Regions from separate parts of the Homo sapiens genome. Here region 1 is linked to region 2. Evidence: fine-mapped expression QTL. A gene starts in region 2. The other region holds a variant in brackets. All regions are shown on one strand. Distances are between the middles of the regions. Region 1 overlaps LINC00327 (long intergenic non-protein coding RNA 327). Region 2 holds the start of LINC00327 (long intergenic non-protein coding RNA 327).

Evidence for each region.
Region 1: its variant is fine-mapped to the expression of LINC00327 in left ventricle (GTEx, PIP above 0.99).

What each region holds. Positions count from the first base shown.
Region 1 is chr13:23,480,877-23,490,625 of GRCh38, forward strand. It overlaps LINC00327 (long intergenic non-protein coding RNA 327), which reads left to right. Exons shown (of 3, transcript NR_038995.1): 3 at 5,359-6,588. Among named protein-coding and RNA genes, the nearest start is that of LINC00327, 16 kb to the left of the region's middle. The variant T/A (reference allele first, on the strand shown) is at 5,934.
Region 2 is chr13:23,464,585-23,474,333 of GRCh38, forward strand. LINC00327 (long intergenic non-protein coding RNA 327) reads left to right here and starts at 4,928. Exons shown (of 3, transcript NR_038995.1): 1 at 4,928-5,607; 2 at 5,930-6,106. RefSeq lists a silencer at 1,709-1,988 and an enhancer at 2,099-2,258.

The sequences.
Region 1 (9,749 bases), 16 kb after region 2:
CACAAGTCTCTAATCATTTTTCTGCCTGTTTTTTCTTTCTGTTCCTCAGACTGGATAATCTCAACTGACCTATCTTCAAGTTTGTTGATTATTTTTATCCTGCCTGATCAAATGTGCTATTGGGTGCCTCTGGTTTATTTTTCAGTTCACTTATTCTAGCTTTCAACTCCAGAATTACTATTTTTTAAATAATTTTGACCCATTTTTATTCTCTATTTGGTTAAACATAGTTATCTTTTGACATGGTTTGGCTCTGTGCCCCAACCCAAATCACATCTCGAATTGTAATCCCCAAGTTTCAAGGAAGGGACCTTGTGGGAGGTGATTGGATCATGGGGCGGTTCCCCCCATGCTGTTCTCATGATAGTGAGAAAGTCCTCATGAGATCTGATGGTTTTATAAGTGTGTGATGGTTCCTCCATTGCTCTGTCTCTCCCTCACTCTCCTGCTGCCCTGTGAAGAAGGTGCCTGCTTCCCCTTCTGCCATGATTCTAAGTTTCCTGAGGCCTCCCCAGCCATGTGGAATTGTGAGTCAATAAAACCTCCTTTGTTTGTAAATTACCCAGTCTCAAGTTGTATCTTTATAGCACTGTGAAAATGGACAAATACATCATTCTTTGCTTCAGTTCTTCAGACATAGTTTCCTTTAACTCTTTGAACATATGTTTAAATAGCTAATTTTACTCTCTGTCTAGTAAGCACAACATTTGGGCCTCTTAGGGCCAACTTCTATCAATTGCTTTCCGTGTGTGTGTATGGGACATAATTTTATGTTTCTTTGCATGTCTCACAATTTTATGTTGAAATTTTGACATTTAAAAAAATATAATATTACAAGTCTGAAAATCATATTCTTCCCTGCTGAATTGTGTTGTTGCTCCTTGCTTTTAAATGTTGTTTTTATTTATTTCATGGCTTTTCTGAACTAATTCTATAAAGTATGTATTGTTTATTATATGTGGTCATGGGAGTTATCAATTAGCTTAGTGATTGGACATCTAATGATTGAACAGAGATTTCTTTAAATGCTGGAACCAATAAACCTCTAAATCTTTGCCATGGGTTACTATATACATGTTGGATCATACCTTTAACACTCCACCAGGCAGTTCACAATGCTGTTTTAGCCTTTACTTTCTGCTTGTGCAGAACCTTAAGGTCACCAAGAAGTGAGAGCTCAGGCCTCCTCAGCTCTTTCTTCAGAATGCCCACAGGCCTACATATGCCCCTGACCTTCCAAATTCTCAGGAATATGTCAGAGCATTTCAAAGCTCCTATGGACATCTTATTCCACAGCTTTTCCCTTTAATCTTCTTGGTTAGTCTATTGTTTGCACTATCATCCATCTCATGCAGCCTGATAGTTAAAAGACGTGCCTAAAATTATTTTCAATAAATGCCTCTTAACCCCTGGGAGAGACTTTTTACACTTGGCAAGTTCAAACCACATCAAGTAAAAATGTACCTTTTCAGTGGAGCCTTCTAAGGATGGATCAAACAATGTCAGTTCTTTGGGACTGAGGCTTTGAATGAGCTCCAGCTCTGTTCTGATCCTTTAATACTGGAATGCAGTTGTTATTTTTCTAGGCTATTGCTGAGCTGAAGAGTGGGAGATGGGCCTAAGGTAAGTTTCAAATGTTGTAAAGATTACAGTTCTTACCAAGATTCAGATATTTTTCTTGAATAAATGCTCCCTGGATGGCTGAAAGTCTTTGGTTAATGCCAAGAGAGTTGAAAAAATGGATTCTGCTTTTCTTTGCCAGTTTTTTCATTACTGTTACGAAGGAACAAAATTTTGGATGTTCTTAATCTGCCATTTTTACTACTGTCACCTATTTTAATGTTGTGTTTTTATAATCTACACTGTACAAAACTAGCCTCACAGAATTATGTTGATAAGGTGGAAGAAGAGATTTTTAAAACATTTTATTAAGCTCAGAATATTCATTTTTAAACTTTCATTCAAAGTAATGTAAATGATACTATATTTCTAAATTCATCTTCTACTGTTCATTAGTAGTCAGATTCAATAATTTATCCATAAATTATAGTTAAGTTTAAATTATCTTTTGATGAAAGAAATGGATTCTGGATCCATGAATTTCCTATATGTTGTCTTCTCCTGATAGAAAACAAAAATTCACAATCTTTTATCAAATTTAAAGATGTTTGGTGATACATTTTGACAGTGTAATATCAATATCATCACCAACTCTGCTGTCAATAAACTATGGAGCATGTCACAATAACTTACAGAAAGTCTGTTCTTTCAAGCATCCAAGTTTCATTTTGTGCTTTAATTTCATGTGGCATTAGAAAACATGTTGCCTTCCTTCCTTGCATAGGAGTGTGAGCCTCAGAAATTTGAGACTGAGACCTGTCTCAAATTTCTGAGGCTGAGGAAGGAGAATCGCTTGAACCCAGGAGGCGGAGGTTTCAGTGAGCCAAGATCGCATCACTGCACTCCAGCCTGGGTGACAGAGTGATAGATACCCTTTCTCAAAAAAAAAATTTGATATGGGCCACATTACTCTGAAGTCCATACATTAGTAGGCAGGCATGAAAGTGCCTTATGTATGTAAACAGGTTACTGTTATTTTCTGCCGAAGTTTAAGTTGTCTGTCTTCAGCTTGCAGGGTTTTTTTTTTTTTTTTTTTTTTTTTTTTTTTTGAGACGGAGTCTCGCTCTGTCGCCCAGGCCGGACTGCGGACTGCAGTGGCGCAATCTCGGCTCACTGCAAGCTCCGCTTCCCGGGTTCACGCCATTCTCCTGCCTCAGCCTCCCGAGTAGCTGGGACTACAGGCGCCTGCCACCGCGCCCGGCTAATTTTTTTGTATTTTTAGTAGAGACGGGGTTTCACCTTGTTAGCCAGGATGGTCTCGATCTCCTGACCTCGTGATCCACCCGCCTCGGCCTCCCAAAGTGCTGGGATTACAGGCGTGAGCCACCGCGCCCGGCCAGCTTGCAGGGTTTTAAAGAAGAACAACTTAGTTTTCAGTGACTTCAAATTAGGAAAAATGAAAAAGAGACGGAAAAAAATTGAAAACATTATTTTGAAGACTTGTAGCCAAGAAAAATTAGAATTTGGTCCAAACTGTAGAAAATAATAAAAATTGGAAAAAAACATTAGGCAAGACTAGAATCTAACAACAGATATATAATCATTTTGAAATAATTTTTTTCTCTCTCCAGTTCCCCATTTTACTAAAGATAAATCATGGTAGGGCTGGTTTGGTTATTATACTTGGCCTAAGTATTTGTATGCAGTGCAGCAAAAATAATTATTATTTTTACATAGGCTTTTAAATTGGCTTTGATGGAACTTTGTTCCATAAGAGGAATCTCAGATAAGACTTCTTAAAGCCCAGCCCAGCCATGGATTGTGCTATCAAATACCCATGAGTTGGGTGAAATTTCCTGCTGTCAGGGTTTCAAGATAAACCTGGGACTTCTGTGCCTGTCAGTAAGTGACATTCTTTACTTACCATGGGTCAGAAACCCTATACAGTGTGTACACAAAATATGAGGCTAATTTTTCCAAGGTCTTATTGGCTCTATAAGTCAAGTTTGATTCCTTAAAGGAAAGCACACCATTCCAGTCAAAGCCTTGGTAAAAGAACCAATTTCTCCAATTGCATCCTGTTAAAATGAAAACAGATTCTTATTGCACTTATGCAAATAACTGTGTTGCTGTAAGTTAAGAATACTCGCAAGTACTTTACAATTCTGGAGAAATCAGGTAGAGAGAAACAAATGTGTTCCAAATTTTGTTCACAGGAGTGTACTAAATTGTTAAAGCTGTCAATAGCTCAAAAGAAAAGTTTTTAAGACCTTGAAAAACAAAAGAAAGGATCAGCAAACAAATTCAGAAAAAAGTCAGGCAGGGTGCAGTGGCACACTTCTGTAATCCCAGCACTTTGGGAGGCCAAGGCAGGTGGATCACCTGAGGTCAGGAGTTCGAGACTAGCCTGACCAACATGGCAAAACCCAATCTCTACTGAAAATACAAAAATTAGCTGGGTGTGGTGGCGCATGCCTATAATCCCAGCTAGTTGGGAGGCTGAGTCAGGAGAATCGCTTGAACCCAGGAGGTGGAGGTTGCAGTGAGCCAAGATTATGCCACTGCACTCCACCTACATGATGGGAGCGAGACTCCATCTCAAAAAAAAAAAAGAAAGGAAAAGAAAAGAAAAAAAAGAAAGTAAACAGAGCAAGTGACCTTGAAGAGAAGAAAAAGAAAAAAACCAGAAAAAGAAAAATATTCAGATAACAGATGAGAATTTTTTTTTTTTGAGACGTAGTCTCAGTCTGTTGTCGAGGCTGGAGTGCAATGGCGTGATTTCCGCTCGCTGCAATCTCCACCTCCCAGGTTCAAGTGATTCTCAGGCCTTAGCCTCCCGAGTAGCTGAGATTACAGGTGCCTGCCACCATGCCCAGCTAATTTTTGTATTTTTAGTAGAGATGGGGTTTTGCCATGTTGGCCAAGCTGGTCTCAAACTCCTGACCTCAAGTGATCCGCCCACCTTGACCTCCCAAAGTGCTGGGATTACAGGCATGAGCCACCTCCCAGCCCCCCATAAAGTAATTCTTTAAAAGAAAATTGAATTGAGTCATTAGAGATGACAAAGGAGAATTTAAATAATTTATCTGATTCAAGTAATTTTTCATTTAAAACATAAAAACCAGGACAGAATGTCTTGAAAAGAGATCAGAGAACAGAAAAATTGTTTGGAAATGAAAAATATGATTGCTTCCCCCCAAAAAATCTTTCAAAGAAATTATTTTAAAATTGATAAAAAATAACTTATACAAGGTGAAAAAGTATATTTCCTGAGTGAGATAGGAAAATATTTTTTAAAAACTACAAGAAAGAAGTAATCCAGGATATCTAATATTAGACCAGCAAGAGTTTTTAAAAGAGAGAGCAGTGAAATGAAGGGAAATCATCTGTGCGTCTGTGTGTGATTTTTGTAAAATCATTTTTTAAAAACTTTTCTCAGAACTAAAAATGTTATGTCTTGAGGTTGAATTCCAAGCAGGATAAAAATAAAGAAGCCTGAAATGCATCTTTGTGAAACTTCAGAACAGTAACTAACAATAAATGGAAGATCCTAAAAATCTTACAAAGGCAAAAAACAGCCCAGCAGCTAAGGAGCAGGAGCTAGACTGCAGCAGAGTTTTCTTATCAGCAGCACAAAATGTTAGAAAACATTGAAGCAATACCCTCCAATTCAGAGGGAAAACAATTTTGAAAGTTCAATAATAGGTGTAGACAAACAATAAATGATGAAAGAGAAAATAATACATTTGATGCGATACTGGAAATTCACCTCTCTCATACCTTTCTTCCCCTCCCCAGGAGTTTACTGGAGGTTATACTCCAGTCAAAGAAGATGGAAACCAAGAAAGGACACATTTTGGAGATTAGCACTGGCTCCAGGAACCCAGTGAACAGAAGACTCAGGCTGAAGGCTTGTGCATTCAGCCCAGAGAAAATCCACTTAAATTCAGAACAATTAAGGACTCTGGGGAAGAAGGACTTCACATGGTAGTGTGATTGGAAGGCAGATAAATTTTAGGACACAATGGAAGTTCCTAAGATTTTTTATCCTTTTCCAATAGGAAGGATAAAAAAATCATCTAAAACTAGAGGAAAAATCATCTAAAACAAGGTATAAAGAAATGGCTCACGTGTGACCCTTATTTTACTGTGACATGGAGCATTTGATGAAGGATGTGGGAAGGGAGCCTGCTTAACTATGAAGTGAGTAGCATCGCCCCAGGAGCACCATGACAGATGCACAGGACATGGAGGGAAGGAAATGGCATCCTGGCACAGCCCTGGCTCTACATTGAGCAATGTAGACAAAATCATAAAGGCTGCTCTAGTTTTCTACTTTTAGAATCAACCTACAGACATGTAAGACTTAATTG[T/A]AGTTGTAGAATAAAAGATAAAAGATTATTGGCTTTCATAACAATAAAGTCCTAACAATGATTCACAGTTATTCCATGAATAAGGGTAGGGGAAAAGAGGGAGGAATGTAAGGCATTTTATATGGAGCAAGGGAGGCAAAAGACGTTGACAGAGGCTTATGGAACAACACACACACGCACACAAATAGAAGGAATATATTGCTTAAAATGACAAAAATAGCCAACATAGGCTGGGTGCGGTGGCTCATGCCTGTAATCCCAGCACTTTGGGAGGCTGAGGCGGACGGATCACTTGAAGCCAGGAGTTCAAGACCAGCCTGGCCAACATGGTGAAACCCCGTCTCTACTAAAAATACAAAAATTGACTGGGCGCAGTGGTGTGCATCTGTAGTTCCAACTACTTGGGAGGCTGAGGCAGGAGAATCACTTGAATCCGGGAGGCGGAGGTTGCAGTGAGCCGAGATCACGCCACTGCATCCTAGCCTGGGTGACAGAGTGAGACCGTCTGAAAAAGAAAAAAGCCAACATAGGAATTTTTAAAATAATATATAATTACCAAAAATTGGGGAAAATAGAGACAGGGAAGGCAGTTCTATAAGCGAGATAAATCTTTATCTTTTGTATCAGAAAGTCAATAAATATTGTCTGAATTTGATTGGTTATTTCCATTTTTATGAAATGTCTACAATAGGCAAATCTATAGAACCAGTAAAGAAATTAGGAATTCCTGTGGCTGGGACTGAAGAGTGAAATCACTGCAAGTGGTCAAGAGGGATCTTCTGAAGTGATAGGTGTGTTCTAAAATTGGGCTGTGGGGATGCTTGCACAACTCTGTAACTTTGCTAAAATTCATTTCATTACACATTTAGTGAGTTTTATGATATGTACATTACCCATCAATAAAGCTGTGTTAAAAAAAAGGCTGATTTTTTAGGCTGGGCGCAGTGGCTCACGCCTGCAATCCCAGCACTTTGGGAGGCCAAGGCGGGGGGATCACAAGGTCAGGAGATCAAGACCATCCTGGCTAACATGGTGAAACCCCGTCTCTACTAAAAATACAAAAAATTAGCCGGGTGTGGTGGCGGGCACCTGTAATCCCAGCTACTTGGGAGGCTGAGGCAGGAGAATGGCGTGAACCCGGGAGGCAGAGCTTGCAGTGAGCGGAGATCATGCCATTGCACTCCAGCCTGGGTGACAGAATGAGACTCTGTCTCAAAAAAAAAAAAAGGCTAATTTTTAAAAAGGTCAAAGAAGAGATGTGAAAATATATTATTTAGAGTTCTGTAGGCAACCAACAGGAATAAAAGTAGAAATGTTTTCTGGGATGATCTAGGAGTTGCTAGGGTGAGGAAGTGTGAAATGGAGGCAGCTGTTTATCAGTTATGTTTTTATCAGTTTATCAGTTCTGTTTTTCTATACTATTTCCATTTTGTTTATCAATGCATGTATTACCTCAGTTCATTATTAGAGATTTTTTAAAACTTTAGATTTCTTAATGCAGAAAAAAATGTTTCTTGTTTTTAATCTTTTAGAATTTAAATATGAGTAATGATGGCATGTGAGTAAATGAATAGAATTTATTTTTTCTCCTAAAGACCAAGGCCAAGGGGCAAACTCTCTTACAAACCACCGCTCATAACTTGATGTGGACAAGAGCTCAACTGGGCATCGCCAAAAGTCCATGCCACTCCCAAAATAGAATGGAGGCAAGGAGACTAAGCAACTGATCTTTCTGGGAATGACATTTGGTGCAGCTGTGTTAAGCGGTTGCCATGGACTAATACAGAAAACATAAATAATCTCAGAGAAGCAAGTGCCCGAGAAAAACGAGATGACACAGGAAGTTGCTAATGTTATCAGCTGTCTTCATCTGTTTATATAAGAACGCTGCCAAAGTAACCATCTATGTGCCCAGGTTTTAAGCCGCATGACACAACCTCTTTACCCTGAGGTGAGAGTGACATGGTGGCCAATGAGAGGCCATCACTGTGGAAAACACATATTAAGACTTTTTGAGATATGAAGTAATGGGATAGATCATGAGGACTTGAGGCTACAAGCTGACGACCTTGCAGTTGGTTCAAAGAGCTTGGGGACTTTTCAGTGTAATTTTGCTAGGTGACGAATCGGAAGCTTTCACACCTGCATTCCCTTTCTTTTTTTCTTATTTATTTATTTATTTATTTGAGACGGAGTGGTGCCCTGTTGCCCAGGCTGGAGTGCAGTGGCGCAATCTCAGCTCACAGCAACCTCCACCTCCCAAGTTCAAGCAATTCTCCTGCCTCAGCCTCCCAGTAGCTGGGATTACAGGCTCCCGCCACCACGCCTGGCTAATTTATTACTATTATTATTATTATTATTATTATTATTATTATTTTTGGTAGGGACAGGGTTTCCACATGTTGGCCAGACTAGTCTTGAACTCCTGACCTCAGGTGATCCACCCACCTCGGCCTCCCAAAGTGCTGAGATTACAGGCGTAAGCCACTGCGCCCAGCATTCCCTTTCACATAAAATGCTACGTGAATGGTGGTAATAAAACAGTCAGAGCGATTCCATGCAACCCAACAGATAACGTGGTTTGTGCATTTTTTCTATCCATGAGGGAATGAGAAAGGCTATTCCTGCCTTTCCGTCAATTCCATTCAACCAAATATTTCCCATTTTAACGTGAAATCAGACCTCTCATGGGTTGGTCTGTTGTTGGAGTGACCACACTCACTTACTCCACTTGCTCCGAGGTTCCTCTCATTACCTGAACATGCACACGGGGCCCAGCAGGCACTGAGGAAAAGGTTGAGTGGCACTTGTCATCTGCATGCCTCCCAGGTGGGTCCTGCTCAGGGAGGAGTGTCCAATAACCTTGGTGACAGCCACAGCCTGGCAAGATTCATGCCGCAGACAACACGGTGCCCGAATCCCTTCCTTATAATTCCCCAGGCATGGGGTTAGTAGACAAAGCCAGTGAAGCTGATAAGAGAAGCAACATGTAAAAGGGGAGGGCACCACGTTGTCCCCTAAGACAAGAATGGAAATGGTTTAATGAGTTTGTTACTTACTATCTACATGATGTTAAAACCAATCCAGGCAGGGCAAAATAGGTCAGAGCCTTTTCACAAAGCCAGTACTTTGTGTAGTGAGATTTTAAAGACATTACCCTGTCAGTGAGAGAGAGAGAGCTACAGTTAGACAAACATGATAAGACAAAGAGCTAAATATAAAATAAAAAATGCAGATGTGAAATCATATTTGCAAGTCTTTCTTTTGCTGTCAGTAGTTGGTAATTGGTTGTAGCCACCCAGATGCGAGTCAGATACATACAACCGTAAGTACCACTTAAAATTTCAGTGGCTAAAGAATCTTGCCAGAAAGAATTTTTTAGTCAAAATTCCTAAACATTTCTCATTGTGCCAAAACGTACATATTTGCTTATAATATATCAAAATAAAAATGAGAATTTCCTTCATTTCTGGTGTTGTGAAAAGTTCCTGATAGATATCTCATGGAGACCAGGTTCCAAGAGCATTTCCTGTGGCCTTACTGCAGACAGCAGATCATTTCAGCCTCCACTCAGGCGAATGCTTAGTGGCTGGGAGTGTGCACGCTCTGGTTCAAGTGCAGTGAGGGTGGGGTACTAGACTCACCACTTCCTAGCTGTGGGGTGTTACTCCAGGCCTTTAAACTTTTATCAGAAACTCAAGCCTTCAAGCTTTCATCTCTTCCATCTCTGCACCTCACAGGACTACCATGAGCTTAAATGAGAGCACACATAAAATATGGTAAGAAACGGGTATGATTATTTTTCCTATTTTATAA
Region 2 (9,749 bases):
CAATGGAATATTATTCTGCCTTAAAAAGAAAGGAACTTCTGACACGTGCTACAACATGAGTGAAACTTGAAGATGGTAAGTTAAATGAGCCAGACAGAAAAGGACGAATACTGTAGGATCCCACTTATATGAGGTACCTAAAATAGTCTAATTCATAGAGACAAAGTACAAACCATTTTTAACGTAAGATGGCTTGACTTATGGTTTTTTTACTTTACAGTGGTGAAAAATCAGTATGCATTCAGTAGCAACTGTACTTTGAGTACCCATATGATATGGTTTGAATTCTCACCTTGAATTGTAATAATCCCCACATGTCAAGGGTGGAGATAACTGAGTCATGGGGGCAGTTTCCACCATACTGTTCTCATGATAGTGAATAAGTCTCATGATATCTGATGGTTTTATAAATGGGAGTTTGCCTGCACAAGCTCTGTCTTGCCTGCCTGCCTTGCCTGCCTGCCGCCATGTAAGATGTGACTTTGCTCCTCCTTTGCCTTCTGCCATGATTGTGAGGCCTCCTCAGCCATGTGGAACTGTGAGTCAATTAAACCTCTTTCCTTTATAAATTACCCAATCTCCCATATGTCTGTATCAGCAGTGTGAGAACACACTAATACACCATAGAACCATTCTGAGCATTTACTGAGCACTTACTATTAGAGCTTCTCACTTTTAGTACAGTATTTAATACATTACGTGGGATATTTTGTACTTTATTGGAAAATAAGCCTTATGTTAGGTGATTTTGCCCAACTGTAGGCTACTGTGAGTGTTCTGAGCACGTTTAAGGTAGGCTGGGCTAAGCTGTGATGTTCAGTAGGTTAGGGGCATGGAATGCATTGTCAACTTTCTGTGGGTTTATCTGGACCTAACCCCATCATAAGTCAAGGAGCATCTGTAGAATGGTGGTTTTTCAGGAGCTAGGGGAAGGGGAATGGGAAAATGTTGTTTAATGACTGTGGAGTTTCAGTTTTACAAGATGAAAAGTGTTCTGGAGTGTGGCTGCACAATGGTGTGGATGTTCTTAACACTGCTGAAGAGGACACATACAAATGATTAAGATGGTAAATGTTTTTATGTGTATTTTTACCCCAAATACTTTTCAAAAAATATCTTGGCTATTATTTATCTCCTTATATATATGTCTTTTTTTGTTTGCTAGCATATAAATCTCTCGGAGGCAGAAAACATGTCTGAAATCTACAGCATGTAGATTTCATACAGGGCACAGTGGTTGACCAGTAATGAGTTCCTGCAGGAGGGGACCCTTCCAGTGAATGTAGACCTGGAAAATGAGATTGTCCTATTTATTCCTCTGAATATTCCCCAGCATCTATCACAGTGCTCTTTATAAAGTAAGTGCTCGGTAAACGTTCATTCGTGGTGATGCTAAGGACCGGAAGGGTCTTTAACCTTTTCTCTCCCTCCTAGCTCAGCCCTCACGGAACCCTAAAAGCTGGCTAAGGGGCCATTCTCCTCGCCACCTGGGCCTGCGTCTGCCGAATCGCTTCCTAAGGACTTTGACTAGAAACCAAAGGTCCCATTTTTCATCTGCCATTTATTTATCATTGCATAACTTAGGTAAGTCCCTCCGCCTTCACTGTCAGTTCTTCACTCATTGTTTTGCATCCAAGGAGTCTGGAAATAAGCGGGAACACCCTGCACGTGAGAGGGGCCCTGAAATTCACGAGGGGCTGGGGCTTTGCGTTTATTCCTCCAGTTCCGCCTGCAGCAACCCTGACGATCGAGCAGGGCCCGCGGGGGAGCGAGCGGAAGCGGGCAGCGTGCGCTGCTGTCCCGCTACCCAGCCCGCTAGGCTGCGCAGCTGCGTCTGCGGGCGGGGAGCCGGGGCGGCCGTGGGCTTCCTCCGGGCGCGGGCTGACGGCTGCCGCCTGTGGGCGCCCCAGCCCTGCAGCCGAGCGGGAGGGGCGGACCAGCGGGTGTCGGGAGCAGGCTGCAGCGGCCAGGCCTCTGCGGCTTCTCGGAGTACTGGGTCCACTGGAGAGCGAAGAGCCGCGGCCGCCAGGATTCCCAGCAGCGGCCGCGTGTTGAGAGCCTAGAAGTGGCCCCGAAGCCGTGCCTTTCCCGATAGCCAAGCAGAAGTAGGACTTGAAGCACCGAGGCTGGGATGCCCATGCTGGTGACGCCTTGGGGCTCGCAGTTATACTTGGTGACCGGTCTACACGGCGATTCGGTGCTTTCCGGAGTAGCAGATTCATCTATCTTTAGACCCACCTTCGTCCTTCGGCGGTTTAGCACGGCCTGCGCTTTCCTGCGAGCCCTGCTGTCACCCGAACAGCCTGATGACTTCACGCTCAACCACTGGAGGGCACAACCACATCATTTTTAAAAAATAGATTCCTCCACTTAAAGGACATGGTTTTGGGGGAAAGAACATTTAAAAAATGTAAAAAGATATATATCTATATCTATATATCTATCTCAGATTGTTCTGATATAAACTCAGGTGGGATTCTTCAAAACAGGAGGCTGTTCCAGTCTCTTCATTTTGCAGCTGAGAAAACGAAGGCCTTGGAGCTTGAGAACTCCAGTTGCCCAAGGCACACAGGTGGTGGGTAAGGAAGCTGATCATGTCTCCAAAGAATCCTTCCATGACCCAGGAGGATCCGGTGGGAGAGCAGGGCCGTCCACAGCTCAGCTAGGACACAAGAAGGCCCGGGGTGGCAGGAGCCCCACTGTGTGCTGCGGAGGATGGCAGAGGAAGTCAGCATTGTCCCGAAACTGCAGGATCATGTGATGTGATGGGAAAAAATTATGAGTACAAGACACAGGAAGAGCAGGTCACGGAAACACATGGTGCCCAGAAGGGCTTAATTAGTAGCAGCTGTGCGGGGTGATGCACAGAGTGCCCCAAGGGTGTCCTGAGTGAGGGTGGATGTCCCCTGCCCTCTGGCTTCGTGAAGGCTTCGTGAAGCCTGCCGGGTCACCCTTGTTTTCATGGATAGCTTCTTTAGGACACTCTCTCCACCAGTAATTGACAAAGTCTGCTTCTGTTGAGTGTCTGATAAAGGATTGAGTTTACATGATTGTTAAGATAGGATCATGAAAGAAGACAGAAGACGGATGTGAGTGGCCCTCAGAAAAAAAGCATCAAAGGAAACTGAGGAGTCTGTGTTCCGAGTTATAACATCAGTCCTGTGTGTAAGTGCTGAGTTTCAGCTCTGCCCAAGGCTAGGGGTTGCCTAGTCGGCTTCAACTGTAAGCTCCTAAGGGACAGTGCTGCCCCTTGAGATGACTGGGCAGCCATCAGCTTCATGCTAGAGGCTTTAAAGCAAACCCAAGATGGAGTCTCAGTACTGATTATTTGGGCCAGTGCCTTTCTTAACATTTCACGGATATATTCCTTTATTTTATTTGTTGTATTTTAGTACAGTTTTGCTCTATTCAGTCATGGTCATTCTTAGTTGCTGTTGTCTTTGTAAACTTATTTAATATCTTTTAAATATTAAAAGATTAAATAAATTATTTTCTAATAAATTCTTTTAATATTAAAATATTAATTTTTGATAAGAACCTTGTTTACTCTCAAGATTAATGTAGTAAATAAAGAAGACTAAAAACTTCAGAGACTGAAAGCTGCTGAGAATGTGTAAGAGAAACCTGGTTGTCAAACGCAATCCTGATCTTTTATCAGGCATCTGTATCAATGTGGATGATCTAACCGTGGTTAACTTCATGAAGAAGGAAGATATTTGATTTTCATCTGTTTAAAGAAACAATCTGTTTCTTCTAAAAGTATATACTCTAAAACACAAACCACTTGGCTGGGAAATAAAAGATGGTTATGCTTTATCATTTATATAAGCCTGGCCTTTCTCCAAAATGATTTTGATATAGCTTACAACAAAAAACGTGTTAGGCTTAATAAAAGAAGAATGGAAATGGAAACTAAGGATCAACAGAAAAGAGTATCACAAATACGGTAATACTAGCATATGGTAATATTATTTCTGTATTTGAGTGTAAAACGTGGCTGTGAGCTTCCTGGAGGCCAAGGCAAAAATAGAGACAAGAGCAACGTGCATAATATCATTAGCAGACAGAAAGATCATGTGACTTTTTAATTTTTTTCCCGGAAACTGAATCTAAAAAGAATCGCTCTATATAATGACTCATATATATGGTTTTAAGTGAAAAAATGATGAACACTGTCCTCCATGAGAGTTTTGGCACAAATTGAAGGAGGTAAGAACTGATATTGAAGCACAACTCAGTGAAGTTAATCCTGTCAGGCTAGGTTCACACAAGAAAACTTCTGACAAAATCCTAGAATTCCGGCAAATGCAGGCATGGAATGAGAGATTCCTATTCCATCTGCCTCGTTGTGCCTGGGGCCAGGCCTGAGTGTTGAAGACAGCTTGTTCCAATGTAAGATCAAATGAGATTGTTCATAACAGGAGTCTGCAGGAATATGGCACCTCTGATTTGAAATGATGGATGATTTTCATCAGCCGTGTATCTGCTTCCTTGGCAGCACCCCAAGTGCAGACCCCAGGCTGTTTCAGTGTGTCATCTGGCAGGCCCAAACAGAGGATGTCTCAATTGTGCATGTGTAACACAGCTTTAATTCATAATTTCATTTCTGGATGGAATTTTGAGCAGATGGGCATTGCTGTCCTTTTTAATGGTAAAAAATCAATGAAAGACACCGTGGTTTTGAAATTAATGAGCACTTGAAAAATACCAGCTTTGTTTGGCTTTGCGTTTTCTTTTTTCCTCTCCTCCTAAGTTGTTTGCAGCAAAATATTCAATTGAAAACTCAACATGTCCACTGCCTCCCAAAAAAAAAAAAAAATTCTGTGGAAAGTCTCCACTAACAGGAAGAGAGAAGTTCTTCACAGTTTGGTTTTATTTTTCAATGATAGTCATTGCCTCATTTTTAAAGCATTTATAATAAATTAAGCAAGTAACACTTGTGTACCAGTTTCTAATCAGTTTCTAATGTGCCTGGAACTTGCTGGGCTACAAAGAAAAGGATCAACTATTTTTTTTCCTGCACCCAAAGATATTGCAATCTTATCGGAGAAGGGAAACTGAGGCATGTGTTACAGTTAGAGGACTAGGAAGCACTAATCTGTGTCAGACTCCAAAGTGCAAATTCAAAGGAAAGACCATTGTTGGAGGGAGTGATCCGGAAGAATTCCTAGCCCTTACCTGTCTCAGTCATGCTTCTTGCCAAAGAAAAAGAGAAATCTCCAAGTATCTTAATGCTTTCAGCGCTTCTCCAATCTGACAAATATTTATTCAGATTCGAACTGACTGCCCAAGCTTCACTGCAGCTCCTCGTTTCCTGTTAGATCTTTTTAAAAATCTTTGCTTAAAACATTGAAGGCTGAACGATGAGCAAGAAAATCTTGCCTGTGAATAAGACACTGGGAACTGCACAGAATCAACATCAGCTCACAAGCTCATCATCTCACGCACGGATTCCTGAGCACATTCTCGCATTCTTGCTCTTAATCCTCCCTTGGCGACCTTCTACTCAGACATCATCTTTTATGCAGAGAAGCAGGCACGTTTCTCATCATTAATTCTGTTCTCAGCCAGGTGTGTAGCCACAGAGCATACAGACCACAGGATGATGTGAGTACCCCAGGATGTAAATTTGTGCGGAGTAATTACAGCTCAGGCTTCTTACACAGCTTTGGCCACATCAGGACATGAAGCTGTCTTGCAAATTGCGGGTGTGTCTAAGCTCTTAAGCACATGTGAACTTTAACGCACGTGCATTCCCTACTCACATACACAATACAAGCATGCCACACACTCACAATCCAATTGGCTAACTATGGTTATTAGCAGGAAAGAACAATTAATGGTCCTTGTGGTTACAGTTTTGTTTGAATTTTCGCCTCATCAAAAATGTAACAACCAACTAAAGCAGGCTTTCCTCCTTTTTTCCTAGTGAAAGCATATTGACTTTCCTGACTTCTTATGACCACATTTGAGGAAAGGAGTAAGCACTGGAATCACCAACACAGCATGCTTACGGAGGGTGGTCACCAGCTTCATCAGCCTCCCAATTCCACGGAGCCCCTTGAAAATCCAGGAGCGCAGACTGGCAACAGTAGAGATTTAATAGGTAAGACCTTGGGTTCAATGGACAGATCTCCTACAGTTCCTGATATCAGCCCCTATCAGAAATTATATTTTACTTTGTGTATTTCACATATTTCAAATAGAAGGGGTCAAGACTAATAGTGACCAGTCTTCATCCATTTGATAAACCTTTACTAAACACAACTGCAGCTTTGTTCTAGGCAGCATGAATGGAATGATTTACAAACTGTTGCTGCTCTTTGGGCAGTCACTGTTTTATAGGGGAACTCGAGAAGCAGTCAGGAAGGAAGGTCTCGGAGGAGATGGCCCTGAAACTGAATCAGACTTTAAAAGATAAGTTGGTCAACAGGGTTGGAGGGAGGGAGGGAAAAGAAGGTTTTGAAAGATAGATCTTTCAGAAAAAGCAAATAACTTGGGCACAGACATGGGCACAAAAAGGAAAAGAAAAGCCAGGGCATTCAGAGAATTGCAGAACATTTTGCATGACTGAGTATAGGAAGCAAGAGAGGTCTTTTGAGAAATACGACTGGAGAGGTGATGAGGGGCCAGATCTTGTGTTACACAAAGAACCTCTTATGCCACACAAAGGAATTTGGATTTTTTTTTTCCTTTTAGGCATAAGGAAGCCATTGAAGGGTTTTAAACAGGAACAATGTAATCAGATTTACTCTTTGGAAATAAGATCTCCTGGTTAGTTAATGAACTCGTATTTCTTTTTTTCTATGTTAACCATTGTTTTATTGTTTGGTCTTTAGACTCTATTATTGATTGAAATGCCAAAGTGATGGGAGTCAAGCGGCTTTGCCACTTAACCTTCCAAAGTTTGTTTCATTTGCTTTTAAAATAGTTATTATATTACGTGCTTTGCCTTATTAGTTTTGTGTACAATTAAAGCGAGATAAAGGCAGAGAAACTGGCTTGTAGTGCTATTGCTATGGACACCATTAGTTGATGTCAGAACAATTACAGATGAATCAATATTTACTATTGGACCAATTACAGACAAAACCAGAAAAGATTAGATCTAGCACAAACTTTATAAACTATTGAGCCTTTCATTTTATTTTGCATTTAAAAATCCTTACATCCGAGATTCTGAATTCTTTTATCAGGGGTGTGGCCTGTGCATTGAGAGTTTTTAAAGCTCTCCAGGTGATTTTAATATGCAATTAGATTTGAGAACCATGATTTTAGACTTAAGGGGCTTTAGAAGTAAATGTCTTTAAATTCTGTGATAATACATCATTCATAGGCTATTCAGGCTGTACTAAAACATAGAGAAAAAACAAAGACAATTATTGAGTTCATTTTATGAAGCAAGAACAATCTTAATAACAAAAGATAAAAACCTTTAAAAAGACGCGAAGCTATGATCTTTTTATGAATATAGGTGTAAAATCACAAAATATTATAAAAATATTTTAACCACATATTAAAAGAGTAGGCTAAATAGAATTTACTTTAGGAATTGAAGAATGGTTTAATATTGGGAAATTTATTATTGTAATGCCTGGGCAACAGAGCGAGACTCCGTCTCCAAAAAAAAAAAGAAAAAAGAAAATGCGAAGTTTAGTCTCAAGCTAAGACTAAATATTTGCAAATCATGTGTCTGAAAAAGGACTTGCATCAGAATAGAGAACTCTTATCACTCCATTAAAAAAAGACAATTCAAAATGTTGAGCAAAAGATATGAACAGATAATTCACCAAAGAATATATTATGATAGCAGATAAGCATATGAAAAGTTGCTCAACATTATCAGTGCTTAAAGAAATGCGAACTAAAACCATACTGAGATACTATGACACACATACTAGAATGTCTCTAATCAGAAAAACTGAAAATATTGAATTCTGGTAAAGATTTAGAGGAACTGGAATCCTTATACATTGCTGGTGAGAATGTAGAAAAGATACAGTCGCTTTGGAAAACAGTTTGTCAGTGACTCAGTAAGTTAAATACATCCACTTCTAAATATCTACACAGAGAAATGAAAATGTATGCTTAGACAAAAAACATTCAGCATTATTATTTTCCATAACCAAAACCTGGCTATTCTAGTTCAGGATGACATACTGAACATATGTGTTTACCTCGTGTCCCTCCTGAGACCCCAATGAAATGACAACGTAGAAATACAAAGAGGAATAAACTCATGCAACAAAAAAAGCATGGAAGGGTATCAGTAGACAAGAAATTTCAACACATTTCCAGAGGACAAAAAGCTGATGTACAAGCTTGGCGCAGTGGCTCACGCCTATAATCCCAGCACTTTGGGAGGCCAAGGTGGGTTGATCGCCTGAGGTTAGGAGTTCGAGACCAGCCTGACCAATGTGGTAAAACCCCATCTCTACTAAAAATACAAAAATTAGCCGGGCGTGATGGGGTGTGCCTGTAGTCCCAGCTACTCGGGGGGCCGAGGCAGGAGAATTGCTTGAACCCAGGAGGCGGAGGTTGCAGTGAGTCGAGATCGCGCCACTGTACTCCGGCCTGGATGACAGAGCAATACTCTGTCTCAAAAATAAAATAAAATAAAATAAAATAAAATAAAATAAAATAAGAAAGCTAATGTACAGGCAAGCGAAGGATGCTGAAGCCCAGAATATAATCGTTGTTGGAGGCTCTGTAAGAAGGAGCCAGCCTCCTCTATTGGAGACCTGAAAGAGAAGGAGCGAAGCAAAGGGAATGATGGAATATGTACACCACTATGTCACAGCCCTGCCAGTCACCCCTCCCTTTCCCACCCTTCCAGAGCATCTGGAAGGTCAACATTGTCACTGTTACAAAAGATAAAGAATGAAGGAATTTCACACATTTACCTAGGAAGATGTAAATCTTCTGTTGTAGATAATTTATTACAGAGTACTCCGTCCACATCCAGGTGCCCCACACAAGTGCTTCGCAAAGCATCTGTGGTGAAGGACCAGCTTTTGTGTTAAAATTTCAAATCCATTGCAGAAGGTTACTTTTTAAAATATAGTAGAAATAAATTACTAGAAAAATAAAATTTAAAAAGCAAAGGCACACAAAATACAAGCCCAAATGTTTTATTACCAGACTCAAGAGACAAAAGATTATATTTCTTTTTTTTTTTTTTGAGATGGAGTCTCGTTCTGTCACCCAGGCTGGAGCGCAGTGGCACCATCTCAGCTCACTGCAGGCTCTGCCTCCCAGATTCATGCCATTCTCCTGCCTCAGCCTCCTGAATAGCTGGGACTACAGGCGCCCTCCACCAAGCCCGGCTAATTTTTTGTATTTTTAGTAGAGACAGGGTTTCACCGTGTTAGCCAGGATGGTCTCAATCTCCTGACCTCGTGATCTGCCCGCCTCAGCCTCCCAAAGTGCTGGGATTACAGGCATGAGCCACCGTGCCCGGCCCCTAGACAAAATATTATATTTCAATCAATGTTATCAGAACAAATTTAAAATAGAAAAAAAGACAAGAATTACAAAAATGGTACATACTTATTGAAAGTGTGTGTATAGGCAATTAAAGTAGCCAATCATTTTTACATTAAAATATTTGTGTCATTCTACCATTGAAACTAAACAAAAGGTTATGAAAGGAATTGTAATTTCCCATATAGAAAACCTATAAGTTTTGAATAAACAGCATGTATAAAAATATCAAAAGCTTTTATTGTAAAAAATGAGCCTGATTCTTG